2 linked regions of the Homo sapiens genome follow. The protein of the gene in region 1 purifies or fractionates together with the protein of each later gene. This does not show direct contact. Each region holds a gene or a part of one and is shown on either strand. Other genes may lie near its edges.

What was found. The genes of interacting proteins can lie anywhere in the genome.
Region 2: the proteins of KAT7 (region 1) and BRPF3 purify together in Homo sapiens (affinity purification with mass spectrometry; 4 studies listed by BioGRID and IntAct, with this or other methods). This does not show direct contact.

Annotation. Positions count from the first base shown.
Region 1 is NC_000017.11:49,784,394-49,791,680, forward strand, and holds the start of KAT7 (histone acetyltransferase KAT7), read left to right. Parts: upstream 1-4,287; 5' UTR 4,288-4,441; coding exon 4,442-4,456; intron 4,457-4,669; exon of another isoform or gene 4,670-4,717; intron 4,718-7,287. UniProt on the Homo sapiens protein: Catalytic subunit of histone acetyltransferase HBO1 complexes, which specifically mediate acetylation of histone H3 at 'Lys-14' (H3K14ac), thereby regulating various processes, such as gene transcription, protein ubiquitination, immune regulation, stem cell pluripotent and self-renewal maintenance and embryonic development.
Region 2 is NC_000006.12:36,213,724-36,220,758, forward strand, and holds part of BRPF3 (bromodomain and PHD finger-containing protein 3), read left to right. Parts: intron 1-136; coding exon of another isoform or gene 137-153; exon of another isoform or gene 154-156; coding exon 157-663; intron 664-4,193; coding exon 4,194-4,287; intron 4,288-7,035. UniProt on the Homo sapiens protein: Scaffold subunit of various histone acetyltransferase (HAT) complexes, such as the MOZ/MORF and HBO1 complexes, which have a histone H3 acetyltransferase activity.

The DNA of each region.
Region 1 (7,287 bases):
GAGATTGCTAAAATGCATGTCTGACTGGCGGCCTCCTCTGCTTAAGGACTTTCAGAAATTGCCTACCACTTCCAGTTCAGTCTCCACAGAAGGGTGCTGAACACTCTGCATGAACTGGTTCCCAAAACCATGCCTCTTATGTACCCTCCCCGGCACCCATAGATAATGCTCCTCCACACCTCTCTACTATTGCACATTCTGTTTTCTTTGCATGGAAAACCCTTATATTGTCCTTGTTTACTGGCAAACATTCATCCTGTGAAATTCCACTCTTGCTTCACGTCTTTTATGAATCCTTTCCTAAACTTTCCAGATGAAACACTCTACCTCCTCCTCTGTAGCACTTCTGAACCTTGCTTATCTCCCTATTTTCCCATGTAATACTCTACAGTGTTTTGTAAGTGTGTGCTCACTGGCTTGTCTTCCCTACTGGATTCTAAGCTCCTTTAGGGGAAAGTTGGTGTTTTGTCCATGGGGTATAACTCAGTGCCTGGTACCTGGGTGATTAATGCCTGGGTAATCACTCTGTATGTCTTCAGTTAAAGTGGTTGAACAGAGGTTGAACAGAGTTAAAGAGGTTGAACAGATAAAAGCAAACAATCACTGAGACCATGTAAATATATAGTCACTAACATTAGAATGTTATAGCCATGATTAGAGTGACTGGAAATATAAATAACAATAGCCATTTATTGAGCAATTACTCCATGTCAGGAACTGTGCAAAGAGCTTTACAACACTCATCTTCTTTATTCCTTACAACCTTGTGAGGTGGCTATTAATGTCCCCACATCACAGGTGAGAAAACTGAGACACAAACAAATTTAAAACTTGTCCAAGGCCGGGCATGGCTCATGCCTGTAATCCCAGTGCTTTGGGAGGCTCAGATGGGAGGATGGCTTGAGGCCAGGAGTTCGAGACTAGTCTGGGCAATGTAGCAAGACCTCATCTCTACAAATAATTTAAAAATTAGCCAGGCATGGTGGTGTGTACCTGTAGTCCTAGCTACTCGGGAGGCTGACGTGGGAGGATCGCTTGGCCCAGGAGATCAAGGTTGCAGTGAGCTATGATTGTGCCACTGCACTCCAGACTGGGTGACAAGAGTGAGACACTGTCTCTTAAAAAACAAAAAACAAAAACAAAAACTTGTCCAAGAGTAATGCAGGTAGGAAGCAGCAGAGCGGAGATTAAAATTCAGATCTGACATCAAAGCCCTGTACTGGACACTAGTACAGCTGATGATACAATAAACATGATTTATCTATGTTTCTATTATCTGTTTGGGAAGGGAAATGAACAGAATTATCTACCAAATTGTACAAGGAAAATAACAAATCCAGCAGTTAAGTGCAAAATAACATATCATTACGCCCTACTACCTTACAAAGAATGAATTGGAAAAGATTTTCTGAAAAAATAAAATTTTATTGAGGGTTAGGAGATGCATCCAGGCAGGAAGAAAAGCCTGAGAAAATAGAAAGGCAAGGAGAACTGTCGAGAGTGTCAACGTGAAGTCTGGTGATTGAGGATAGCCAGGGGGCAACCAGTCAGAGGCATTGAAATCAACATCAGTTCCTGCTTGGAAAGCTAATTGTGTTGTGATGAACATGACTCTCAAAGTAAATATTATATTTGGTTTTTTAAAAAAAGAAGAAGAAATAAGCTTTTAAGATCCTCCCCTTCCCCATTCTAAATATACCTGGCTGGTCTACTTTCAAGTACTATACACATTTTTTTCCTTATGATCATGTTTCTATCCTACTGGTGTTAGTTTTTTCATCTTTCTGCCAGAGTGTACACTTTCCAAGGACAAGAACCATATCTAAATGAAACTGTAAACTCTTTAGTGTCAGCTGCAGTCTTAGGGAATCTAGCATAAGAAATTAACTAACGTCGAACATCTGTAATGCTGGTATTTGTGTGACGGATGCAAGTCAGGATAAGATCTTATTCTAAAACACTAATTTCCAGGGAGGATAACTTCACCATCTCTGAGCGCTATACATTCAGAGACTGTAAAACAGTAATGATATTCTTACTGAGTAGCAAGCATTTACTGTGGGAAGAACGAGGTTTGAGCACCATTGGAAAGGATGGTATGAGCCAGGCGCAGTGGCTCACACCTGTAATCCCAGCACTTTGGGAGGCTGAGGCGGGTGGATCACCTGAGGTCAGGAGTTCAAGACCAACCTGACCAACATGGAGAAACACTGTCTCTACTAAAAATACAAAAAGTAGCCACATGTGGTGGCGGGCGCCTGTAATCTCAGCTACTCGGGAGGTTGAGGCAGGAGAATCGCCTGAACCCGGGAGGCGGAGGCTGCGGTGAGCCGAGCTCGTGCCATTGCCCTCCAGCCTGGCAACAAGAGCAAAACCCTGTCTCAGAAAAAAAAAAAAAAAAAGAAAGGCTGGTATGGCTGGGAGTGGTGGCTCACACCTTAATCCCAGCACTCTGGAAGGCCGAGACAGTAGTTCAGCTCAGTAGGTCGAGACCAGCCTGGGCAGCATGGTGAAACTCTGTCTCTACAAAAAATACAAAAATTAGCCAGGTGTGGTGGCACACGCCTGCAGTCCCAGCTACTCGGGAGGCTGAGGCAAGAGAATCCCTTGAGCCCACGAGGTGGAGCTTGCAGTGAACTGACATCCAGCCATTGCACTCCAGCCTGGGCAACACAGCAAGACTCTGTCTTGAAAGAAAAAAAAAGAAGAGAGAGAAAAAAAGTAGGATGGTATGAAATAACTGAGATATGCTCTTAATGTAAGAGATCCTTACCACCAGTTGGGGAGCCAGAACATTCAAATGTAACCTCAGGAACATATCCGTGAGTGCAAAATAACAGAGTAATGTATGAAATTAAATGCTTAAGTGGTGAGGGGCTACATGAAATTAAATGCTTAAGTGGTGAGAAGTAATGTGAACCATTTTCAAATAAGTTCTTACGTGCAGTTCAACCTAAGTAGGTTATCAAAGGTATTTATACTAAGCACTAAAAGCTAAGTATTAAATACTAAAAGCTGCCTGTGTCAACACTGGCCCAGGACATCCCCAAGGAGAGTGCTGGCTAAAGGTCTGGAACTTTAAATCTTTAGAGTTCTTTACTTAGCACATCAATCAGATATTTACCTTCTGCTTCTTTGTTCTTTAGCCCTGCTCCTGGGGGAAATCTCCATCTTAACGGGGCCTCAGTTTGAAATTGGGGTTCGGGATCCTAACTTAATGACTGAGCGTGCCTGGGTTCCACCCAGTCGCAATTGGTCAAGACTTGGTCCTCTCAAGGCCTTTCCTCCGGAGAGGTTAAATCCTCAACGCCTGCTCTCCACTTTCCAGCCTTTTCTTAAGGCTCTTCTTTCAGCCTAGTATCTGTGACCAACTTCTCCTTCCTAGGCCCTCTCATTATTATTTAAATGTCCATTCTTTTGGGGGCTTCAACTTCACTAAAAACATTCCTTCCTCTTCCTCCGCCTCGTAACTCTCTGCTCAAGCATCTGGATGCCAGAGGTCATTTGAGCTAAATGGGGTTCAAAGCTTTTCTGACTCTGGTACTGCATTCCCCACTTTCAAATCACATTTTTCACCCCAGGGCCCCCAGTGGTCTCAAACCCAAACACAGTGCGGTTAGGAAGTGGGCACTCGCCACAGAGCTAAATTGGGAATTATTTGACCTGCAGCTTCTGGAGAATGGTTTTGCCTCCTCCCCGCGACATCAACTAACTCACTTGCTGTTAGCTAAGGGCAAGGACAATGTCTCCTCTACCAGACAGGAAACTTGATGGCGGACGCTATCCGTTAGTTCCTTTTTCAATTCCCCATTCCCACCCCTTCGAGACCACGATGTTTCTTAAAATACAAAGTTTCTTTTACAAAACATCCCTCCGCAACTTTGAGTTTATATAATAAACGGAAACGTCCTTTAAACAATCAGGCTACGAAGGGGTTAAATCTAATCTCAGCAACCTGATGGATTCTGGGGGGTTTCCTTCCTCGACTCTAGAAATTAAAACGAAATTTTGCCCAAGGTAAAGATGAGAACCGTTTACATCAACTGTCAGGCTTCTGCCCCAAACAAGAATGGCTACCCACGCCCACAAACAGAGCCACTCACGTAACTAAAAATGGTTGGCTCCGGGTTCCACCACTGGAGTCACTTTCTGCCCAACTTCAAAATGGCGCCCACTAGCTTCACCAAAAGGATCGAACTTCCCAGCACCCTCTCTGGCCCGTAACGTCAGGTGACGCGAGACCCAGCCGGAAGTGAAGGAAAAAGCGCTTCAGCCCGCGGCGCCTGCGCAGAACGCTCCAGACGCTGAGAGGCAGGAGGCACTAGGGATCGTCCGCAGGATTGGGACTGATACAGAGGCCGCCACGGAGCCCGCCGGAGCCACCGTTCCTGCTGCTGCCGCCGCTGCCCGAATCGGAACCGTCGGGCCGCAGCCGCCGGCAATGCCGCGAAGGAAGGTGAGAAACGGGAGAGGAGGGATGGCGGGTTTCTAAGGACAGTCGATTGAGCACCGTGACGCAGTTGGCCACGCCTCACAGTGCTTGGGTCCCAACTTTCCGCTCCCCCGAACCTTGTTCAGCTACCCTCTCTTCTGTCCATACCCAACAGAAAAATGTGGGCCCGACCCTGGCCTCGGCCTATGCTTGCAACTATTCCCGCCCTCTGCTTGCCTGGATCGGAGGCGTTCTTATTAATTGGTCGCTGAAACGTCTGGAAGCATATTGATTGGCTGGTGACGCCGCCTGTTTGGGCTCAACGGTCACCTCCCCGCGTGCGGGGGCGGTGTCTGGCCCCGGCCCCAGCGCTCTCCCACTGGCTGGAGAGAACGATCCCTCCTCTCCTGATTGGTCGAGGTTGGCAGTCTGTCCTGTGGGGGCGCGGCTTAGGCGGACCTCGATTGGGTGGCCCGAATCCCCGCCTTTCCGAGCGGGGACGCTGATAGGTGCAGAGGCGGGGTTTTGGAGGCCTCGTTACCTTCCAGGTGAGGGGCACAACAAAGCAGAAGACTGGGTGGTGGGAAGCCAGCGCCCACTCGCAGGGGATCCCTCTCAGGCCAGTTGCCTCTTTCCTTATTTGCTAGTTCGACAGCGCCTAGAAAATGCAGTTGGTAAAAACTAAAAACTTCTAGAATTAGAAGGCACTTAGAAGATCACCCAGGAATGGCCCCGTCGTTTCTTCTTACAGCTGAACTAACGGAGGCCCATGGAGTGCCGCAAGCCACTCAGGCAGTGGCAGATCCAGAATATAGAACAAATCTAACTCAATTCAACAAATGTCTATTGACTACTTTCTGCGCGGTGGTTGCTGTGGATTCAGAAATTAATTAGATGTGATCCCTGGCTTAAGGGTGTCACAGCCCGATAGGAGAAAACAGACATGAATAATCTTAGAAGGATCTAGTAAGTTCTCAGCTTGGAGGTGTATACAAGGTGTTGCTGGAAGGAAGTGAAGGAGCAGTTAAGTCTGCCCTGGAGTACAATGGGAGATATATTGGTAAAAGCCACAGAGAAGAGCTGAGTTCCAGGATCAAGCCAGGAAGGAATAAGTCTCACGTCAAGGCTTTAAATATCTCGGTAATTAGACTATAATGGTGACTTTTAAGATTCCCCCTTCATTTCAGCCGTTTTCTGTGATTCTTGCTCATTTCCTGGCAGGTTACCCTTAAGATACTTGGAAAACTGGGTGGTATTCTTGCTCATATCAATAGAAATCTTTCTCTTCACAGCGGCTTTTCAGGTTGAAAATGTACACTTTTTAATGTCTCCTAAAATGACCTCAGCTGGTGGGTGGTATGTATGTGTTTTTTTGTTTGTTTGTTTTTGAGACGAGGTTTTGCTCTTGTTGCCCAGGTCGGAGTGCGATGGCGTGATGTTGGCTCACTGCAACCTCCGCCTCCCGGGTTCAAGCGATTCTCCTGCCTCAGTCTCTCTAGTAGCTGGGATTACAGGCGGATTCCATGACGCCCAGCTAATTTTTGTATGTTTAATAGAGACGGGATTTCACCATGTTGGTCAGGGTGGTTTCGAACTCCTGACCTCAGGTGATCCACCCGCCTCGGCCTCCCAAAGTACTGGGATTACAGGCATGAGCCACCACGCCCGGCCGGTGGTATGTATGTAAAGGCTCACCAAATGCAGGAATAATATTGGTGCCTTGAAATAGGGCCACAGTCCTCTTTCTTAATTTCCCAAATACCGGGAGTTACTTGAAAATGTACATTTTTTTAGTAACCTGTTTGGCGGCAAACCTGTCTTAATCTGTCCTGAGGCTACTTATGGTTTTTGTGTGTCTCATTTAGTGTGACTGTTTATATTTTTTGCTGCAGAAATACTATTATGTTTTGTTATTGGGTGGTATTTGCAGGATACATGCAAAGTACTCCCCTTCTAAAAATCCAAAACAATTACAAATTCTAAACACAACTGGCCCTCAGGGTTTTGAATAAATAATTGGGACTTACAGTGTGAATCTTTGTATTGTTTTCAGTAAATATTTTTTCCTTTCTGGTTTTGTAAAGGGTATAGTGTTAGTGCTTAATTGATAAAAGTTATCTTTATGGCTAAGAAAGAACTCCTCAGGAGGATAATAATTGACAAATCCTTGCTCATTGAAAAGATGGTTTTGAAAACAACTGTTTTTGAATACCCATGAGTCTTCATGTGCAAGCTGCCTTTTTGGAAGATAGATGGCTTTCATGTGGAGAAACGTCAAGGATAGATGGCATACGCACTAACAATTTTCATCTTTTTCTGCTTAAATTCTTTTGGGATTAGAGTTGTGGTCCATGATATTTTGAGATAGTGTATGGTTTTTAAAAAATGTGATAGCTTTTCATGGAGACATTGAACAAAAGCTACTCTAAGTTAAATGAGGTCCAGCACCAACGATTTTCTCACTACAGTGGACCTTTTTTTGTGATATTGATCTCCAAATGGTCTTGGTTAATACTTAGTACTAATACAGTAAGAATTAATTCTCTTCATGGCCGGGTGTGGTGGCTCACGTCTGTAATCCCAGCACTTTGGGAGGCCAAGGCGGGTGGATCACCTGAGGTCAGGTGTTCAAGACCAGCCTGGCCAACATAGTGAAACCCCGTCTCTACTAAAAATACAAAAATTAGCTGGGCATGGTGGCGGGCGCCTGTAGTCCCAGCTACTCGGGAGGCTGAGGCAGGAGAATCACTTGAACCCGGGAGGCGGAGGTTGCAGTGAGCCACGATTGCGCCCTTGCACTCCAGCCTGGGCAATGAGAGCGAATGAAACGGAAGCTCTTCATTTATTTAACAAAA
Region 2 (7,035 bases), on another chromosome or scaffold:
TCCTCCTTTCTCTTTGCTTCAGATCTAAGACCTTGAATGCATCTCAAGCCTTATAACAGCCAATGCTTTTGGTCCTTGGTTGTCAGTGTCAGTATCTAGCTTGTAGGAGCAGACTCTTTCTAAAATGTTCAAGCAGATTCTCTTTTTTTCTAATAGATGACTCCAAACTGCCTCCTCCGCCAACCCTGGAGCCCACTGGGCCTGCACCTTCCTTGTCTGAGCAAGAATCCCCCCCGGAGCCCCCTACTCTGAAACCCATTAATGATAGCAAACCTCCAAGCAGGTTCCTAAAGCCCAGAAAGGTGGAAGAAGATGAGCTCTTGGAAAAATCACCACTGCAGCTAGGGAATGAGCCTTTGCAACGCTTGCTCAGTGACAATGGCATCAACAGACTATCCCTCATGGCCCCTGACACCCCGGCCGGTACCCCACTTAGTGGTGTGGGTCGCCGCACATCAGTCCTCTTCAAGAAGGCCAAGAATGGGGTTAAGCTACAGAGAAGCCCAGACAGGGTCCTGGAGAATGGCGAGGACCATGGTGTGGCAGGCTCTCCTGCCTCTCCAGCCAGCATCGAGGAAGAGCGCCACTCCCGGAAGCGGCCAAGGAGCAGGAGCTGTAGTGAGAGCGAAGGGGAGAGGTCCCCCCAGCAGGAGGAAGAGACAGGTGACCCTGCCTGTGACTTCTCTTGATACTTCGCATCTGCTTTTCTGCTTTGCCTTGCCAACCAGCACCTTCCCCAATTGGCCATCTCTCTAATGGCACCATTGGACAGCAATAGTAGCATTGAGGGCACCATAGCTCACAGTTGGGCCTGGCATGTTAGTAGCAGCCAGGGGAAATAGGCTTTGAGCAGGTATTTTCCAGAGAGCCAGATTGTGTCTGGGATTCATTGGCCCTGAGGGTAATGCAATGTTGTATAAAGTAAAATGATTCCTACCTTCATTTCAGTTCATTCATCAAATATTTGTGTTAGGCACTGTTCTAGGCATTGGGGGAAAAAATCAATGAGCAAAACAGACAAAAATCTGCTCTCTTATGGGGGAATATATTAAAAGCAAATGAGTAAACCGTATCTTGTATTAGAAGATTTGGAGAAAGATCCAGCAGGGAAGGAATGCTAGAGTGGTCTTAGAGAGGGTGGCCAGGTTTTCTAAGGAGGTAACGTTTGAGTAAAGATCTGAAGGAGTTGAAGGCATGAGCTATTTGTATGTCTAGGGGAAGAACATTCCAAAAAGATAGACTAGAAAGTACATAGGTCCTGGAGGTGGGAACATGCCTGCATGTCTGAGGAACACTGAGGGAACCAGTTTGGCTGCAGCAGAGGGGGTGGGGTGGGGTGAGGTGGTGATAGAGGTAGGTAGTGGAGGTTCCATCACTAAAGAGAGGGTTTTTTTTTGTTTTTTTGTTTTTTTGAGATGAGTCTTGCTCTGTCGCCCAGGCTAGAGTGCAGTGGCATGATCTCAGCTCACTGCAACCTCTGCCTCCTGGGTTCAAGCAATTCTCCTGCCTCAGCCTCCCAAGTAGCTGGACTACAGGTGCCCACCACCACGCCTTGCTAATTTTTGTGTTTTTAGTGGAGATGGGGTTTCACCATGTTGGCCAGGCTGGTCACCTGACCTCAAGTGATTTGCCCGCCTCAGCCTCCCAAAGTGATGGGATTACAGGCATGAGCCACCGCGCCCCACCTAAAGTGTTCTTAATATACATCCAGCAGGAGCTAGTCATGAGTAGCTGTGAGGAAGTAATAAAATAAGTCAGACTTAATTCCAGCTCTGGAAGGTTCACAGGCCATTGGGCAAATGAGTCTCTCAAAATGTAGAGAAATCACAGTGGTGGACAGTATGTTGTTATTTGTCAGGTGAGAGGTAGCATTGCTAGAGGTGTTCAGGGAATTTGAGCTGTAGGAGTTGGGCTGAGCTGGCCCTGTGGGATGAGGGCAGACTGGAAAGGAATGGTTATGAAGGCCTCAGGCCTGGGTGTGTGGGAACAAGGAGGACAGAATCTCTGTGAGGGACAGCTTAGAGAGGGGCTTCCCAGAGCATCAGGAGCCAAGACTGGATGGGTGAGATGGGACTGAATGTGAAGGACTTTGAATGCCGGGCAGACTACTTAGGTCTTGGTGGGTTAGGGAAGACCCACTTTCTTGGCAGGGAGGGCTGCTCTTGGCTTTTGCTCTTTGTGTCCCTCATGTACTTTTATGTGGTGACTTTGGACTGTGTGGCCAGCACTTGCTTTTCTGTCTTCTTGCCTGACATTTTGTTTTCAACAATACCTTCCCATCTCGTCTGGCCAAAACTTTTCTGTGTTAGGGGAGTAAGTTGGTATATAGAGGCAAGAGCTTAAGGCCTGGATTTAGGCATACCTGCACTCAAATCCCCAATTTCTTACTAGCTGTGTAACGACAGGAAAATTAATTAACTTCTCTGAGCCTGTTTCCTTATTCTTAATATGGGGTTTCTGATACCTACCTTGCAGGGTTCTAAGAACTAGAAATACCCTTTATAAAGCACTTGGCATATAGCAGTAGATGGTAGCAGTTACTGTCATCCTGTCAGTTGAATCAGGCTTAGCCATACAGTGCTGAGAACACTGCATTAAAAGAATGAAAGATCCTGCTGTTGGGAAGTAGCTCTGTACATGAGGCCCATCCAACCTGAGGGGGCCTGTTGCTTGGAGATACTGCTAGAATCCTGTCTCTCACCATCCCAGTTGCCTGGCACTCAGGGATACTTCTATACAACCTTAGTTGAATCTCACAAAAAGAGGTGTTGATCCTTCGTAAGTGAGGCACCCAAGACACAGATGGCTTCAGTGATTTAAATTGTGGTCATAATGTTAGAGGCAGAGCCAGGTCAGAGGATAGACATTGTGGCTCAGACACCTGCTCTTATAGGAGGGACTTGCCTCACAGTTTTCTAGTTACGGTGTCTGTAATCTACAGCTTTCAAATCAGGTGCCTGGCCCATCTCTGTACACCTCTTGGCTCAGCTGTTAGAATTATAGGACTTTTAGTGTGGCTAGCAATTGGATAAAGGCCAGGCACAGTGACTCATTCCTGTAATCCCAGCACTTTGGGAGGCTGAGGCAGAAGGATTACTTGAGCCCAGGAGCTCGAGACCAGCCTGAGCAACATGGCAAGACCCTGTTTCTGCAAAGTTAAAAAGTTAGCTGGGCATAGGGCTCATTCATGCCTGTGGTCACACCTACTCAGGAGGTTGAGGCAGGGGATCACTTGAACCCATGCTATTGAGGCTCCAGTGAACCTTGTTTACACCACTGCACTCCGCCTGGGCAACAGAGCGAGACCCTATCTCAAAAAATAGAAAAATAAATTGGATAGATAGGAGAGTGGAAGCCTTCACTTCAAGGTCATATACCTGGGATGACCAAACAGCCTTCATTCGCCTCTGAAGGGCTCCCCACTATAAACAGACCTTCTCTCATACATACTGAATAGTAAGTAAGTAAGGTATTATCTTCACTTCACCAAAGGAGAGGTCAAGAGACCTCAAAGCAAGAGAAAAGGAACCTGTGTTTCAGAGCCCAGCCTAGAACCCCAGGTTCTGACTCTCCCTCCCAGGAAGTTCCGGGCTGCTTTAGTTCCGCTGAAGAGTGCCCCCATCCTCACTTTGGATTAGCCCTGTGAGATATCTCAGGGTGTGGTTGACAAAGGGCCCTTATCCATCTCTAGTCTCTCTTGACACCACCCCCAAAGAATCAAACTAGCTGTTGCCAGCTGTGTGATGCATAGGTTATGTGAGTCTTTATCTGAAGAGGCAAGGTGGTTGGGCTCCTGAAAAAGGCAGAGAAGGCTACCTGATAATCGAGGTTTGAAATTAGAAGCAGATCCAAGGACTTGTGAGCCAGCCAGGGTAGGAGAAGTCTTAGTATCTCCCTGTGTAGCCAAATGACAGTAGCTGAGTGAGCTGTGTGCTATGGTTTCCTTAAACAAAAAGCAGAAGGATGGGAAGGAAATTGCAGTGTCTGCTCCTTGCCCTAGCCAGCAATATTTCCCCCCAAACTTTTATCTTGATCAGATCTTCTCTATCACCCAAGACCCATTTCTCACAGGGAAAGGAATAGCCATCCTCTCCACTCGTCACTGAGCCCTCCTGAGGTGGCTGCCTCACCCTGTAGCATGTGTTGGGAAGGGGGATTTCTGCACTCAGACTCACTGTGTGTGTCCTTGGCAGGCATGACCAACGGCTTTGGAAAACACACCGAAAGCGGGTCTGACTCTGAATGTAGTTTGGGTCTCAGTGGTGGACTGGCATTTGAAGCTTGCAGGTAAGAACACATTCCCAAAGCTTTGTCAGCAGCTCTGCTACCCCTCCTTTTACTCTCCATTCAGCTACAGATTGAACCTCTTCCTGCTTACCTTTTTCTCTCTTCCCCCACTCCTGCTATTTCCTGAGGCCTCTTATCTGTAACTCTGGGAGTTCCTAGGAAACAGGGTGACCCTTGACTCTCAGATCTGATCTGAGAGAGGAAGAGTAGTGCTGATGCTTACAGGGTTTGTGGGGCTGAATTTGGACTCTAGAGGATAAGAAAAGCTAAATCTCCTGTTGTTCAGTGAAATTAACATTTGAGCCAAAGTCCCCTGCTGCCCCTACACACATTTAGACAACCCAGCCATTACAGAGTTGGTTTTGCTCTTTGCCTTTTGGGGCGTCATAGCCTCTTTATAGAGGTGTGGTGTAGGTGTATGAAATGACCAAGTAGGAAATTTGGAATTGCCTTTTTTTTTTTTTTTTTGAGACGGAGTCTTGCTTGCTGCCCAGGCTGGAGTGCAGTGGCCCGATCTCGGCTCACTGCAACCTCCGCCTCCTGGGTTCAAGTGATTCTCCTGCCTCTGCCTCTTGAGTAGCTGGGAGTATAGGCACGTGCCACCACGCCTAGCTAATTTTTGTATTTTAGTAGAGATGAGGTTTCACCATGTTGGCCAGACTGGTCTTGAACTCCTGACCTCAAGTGATCTGCCCGCCGCAGCATCCCAAAGTGCTGGAATTACAGGCGTGAGCCACTGCGCCTGGCCTGGAATTGCCTTTTATTCAGACAAAGGCCCCAAAGCTCTTCTGCTGTCCTTGAGCTGAAAAGAGATGGATTTCTTCCCATTCTTTTATCTGAAGGGAGGATTTCTCAGACCAGACCTTAAAGTTTCTTCCAGGCACAAGAGCTTATGGAGCCCCTGCTCTGTGTTCTGTGTTCTGCAAGACACCAGGGCGGGGAGGACTCTTAGAAATGAGAAACCCTCACTGCCACAAAGGAAAAGTGACTTGTCCTGAAGGCTAATGTCATGGCCCCACCCATGACTGCTGAATGGGTCTTAGGTTCAGAGTAGGGGAGGAAAGGTCCCAGGGCAGCACCAGAAGACTATTTGTGTTTGAAGTGCTTCCAAGGCAGACTGGGCATGTGTTCTTTTAGGCATTCAGTCTACCTGGGCTGTAGGACTACTGGTAGGGCTGAGGGGGTCCCCAGCTACTCGTTGGCCTGGACTGGTTCCCTGCTGTGGTTTCTCTGAGATTCCCCTACCCCCCGCCAACCCTCAGAGTTGCCCTAGCTTCCTATTGCAGCCTCCAGAGATATAGGGGAAGTAGATGGGAAAAAATTATCAGGCACAGGAAAGAGAAAGATTTCAGAATCTTACACGATGCTTCTAGCCTGGCCCTGGGTTGAAGTTCCTGACTCCCTTCAAAGATAAGGTACCTGGAAGCCCACTTTGTTGGGGTCAGGGTAGGATTGGACCCATCAAACTATCCTTTTCTTGCTCTTGACTAAAAGTGAAAGGTGTGTTGTTGGCCCCTTCTTCTATGAAGGGCATTCTTTTCAGCTATGAGCCACAAGAGCAAGCAAGGCCAGGCTCTGGTTAGCCTGCTAATTCAGGTGGCGTGTTTGCCTTTCTGCAGAACTCCAGTGCAATGCCCTTGATTTATCTGGGGCCCCTTGGAGGAAGTATGTATTAATATTTCAGGGTTTAAAATAGGAGATCCAAAGGCTTCAACTGCAAGGGTTGTTTTTCTTTTTCCCCCCATACTGTGGTAATAAGTATATAAGGGAAGACCTTATTTATTAGACCAGAATCATATAATCCCAGAATTAGAAATAACCTTGAAAGAACTGGTCACTAACCCATCCCCCACACTCCCTTTTTCACTTACCCCTTGGTTTATCTTTTCTGATGATTTTCTGAGCAGGTTGGTGCTACATGTGCTTTCTATAGATCACTCATTCAAATATTGATAACTGAACACCTACTGTATGCCAGGTACTGTTCTAAGCACTAAGGTGCCTGTTCTCATGAAGATTATCTTCTAAGGTGTCTGTTCTCATGGATATGGATGTTAAACCAGTAAATAAGATAACTGTAGGTTGGGTTGTCTGCTTAGGCTGGGGTAACTTGGAGAAAGGGCTGAAATGCAGGCCATGATTGAGTCAGTTGTGCTTTTTTCTACAAATCAGGAACATACAGACCTATTTTTGGTGTTGCATCCTATTTTATTGAGCTCATCCTTCTCAGAGCTCATCATTCTATAGTACAGTATTAGCAGTTTGTAATACTTTAAGTAAGACATTAAAATTTACTATCCTTCGTATGACAATAACTACAGCTGTGTTTATTGACTGCATGGTATGTGCTGTACTGAGAGTTTTATGTGTGTTCGTTCATTAATCCTTACAACAACACATGGGGAGTGTAAGCCTCGGAGAAGTTAAGTAACTTGCTGAAGGTTACAGAACTGATAACAAGAGCTGGGTTTTGAACCCAGATAGGCTCCAAGAGTTTAATTTCTTAACTACTTTGCTGTGCTGTCTTCTGTTGTATTTGAAGATGTCTCCCCAGATTCTTGATGTGAACTTTGATTTGTTTTTCTTTTTCTCATCTTGACGTGAACTTTGAGAGGCTTTCCTGATAAAATTACTAGCACTTTACATTTGTACAAGGCCTCAATTTCTCTAATATGTTGGCAGATTTTTATAGGGTAAATGGGAACTAAATCCTAAATGTAAACTGGGTATTTTTTGTTTTTTCCCAAA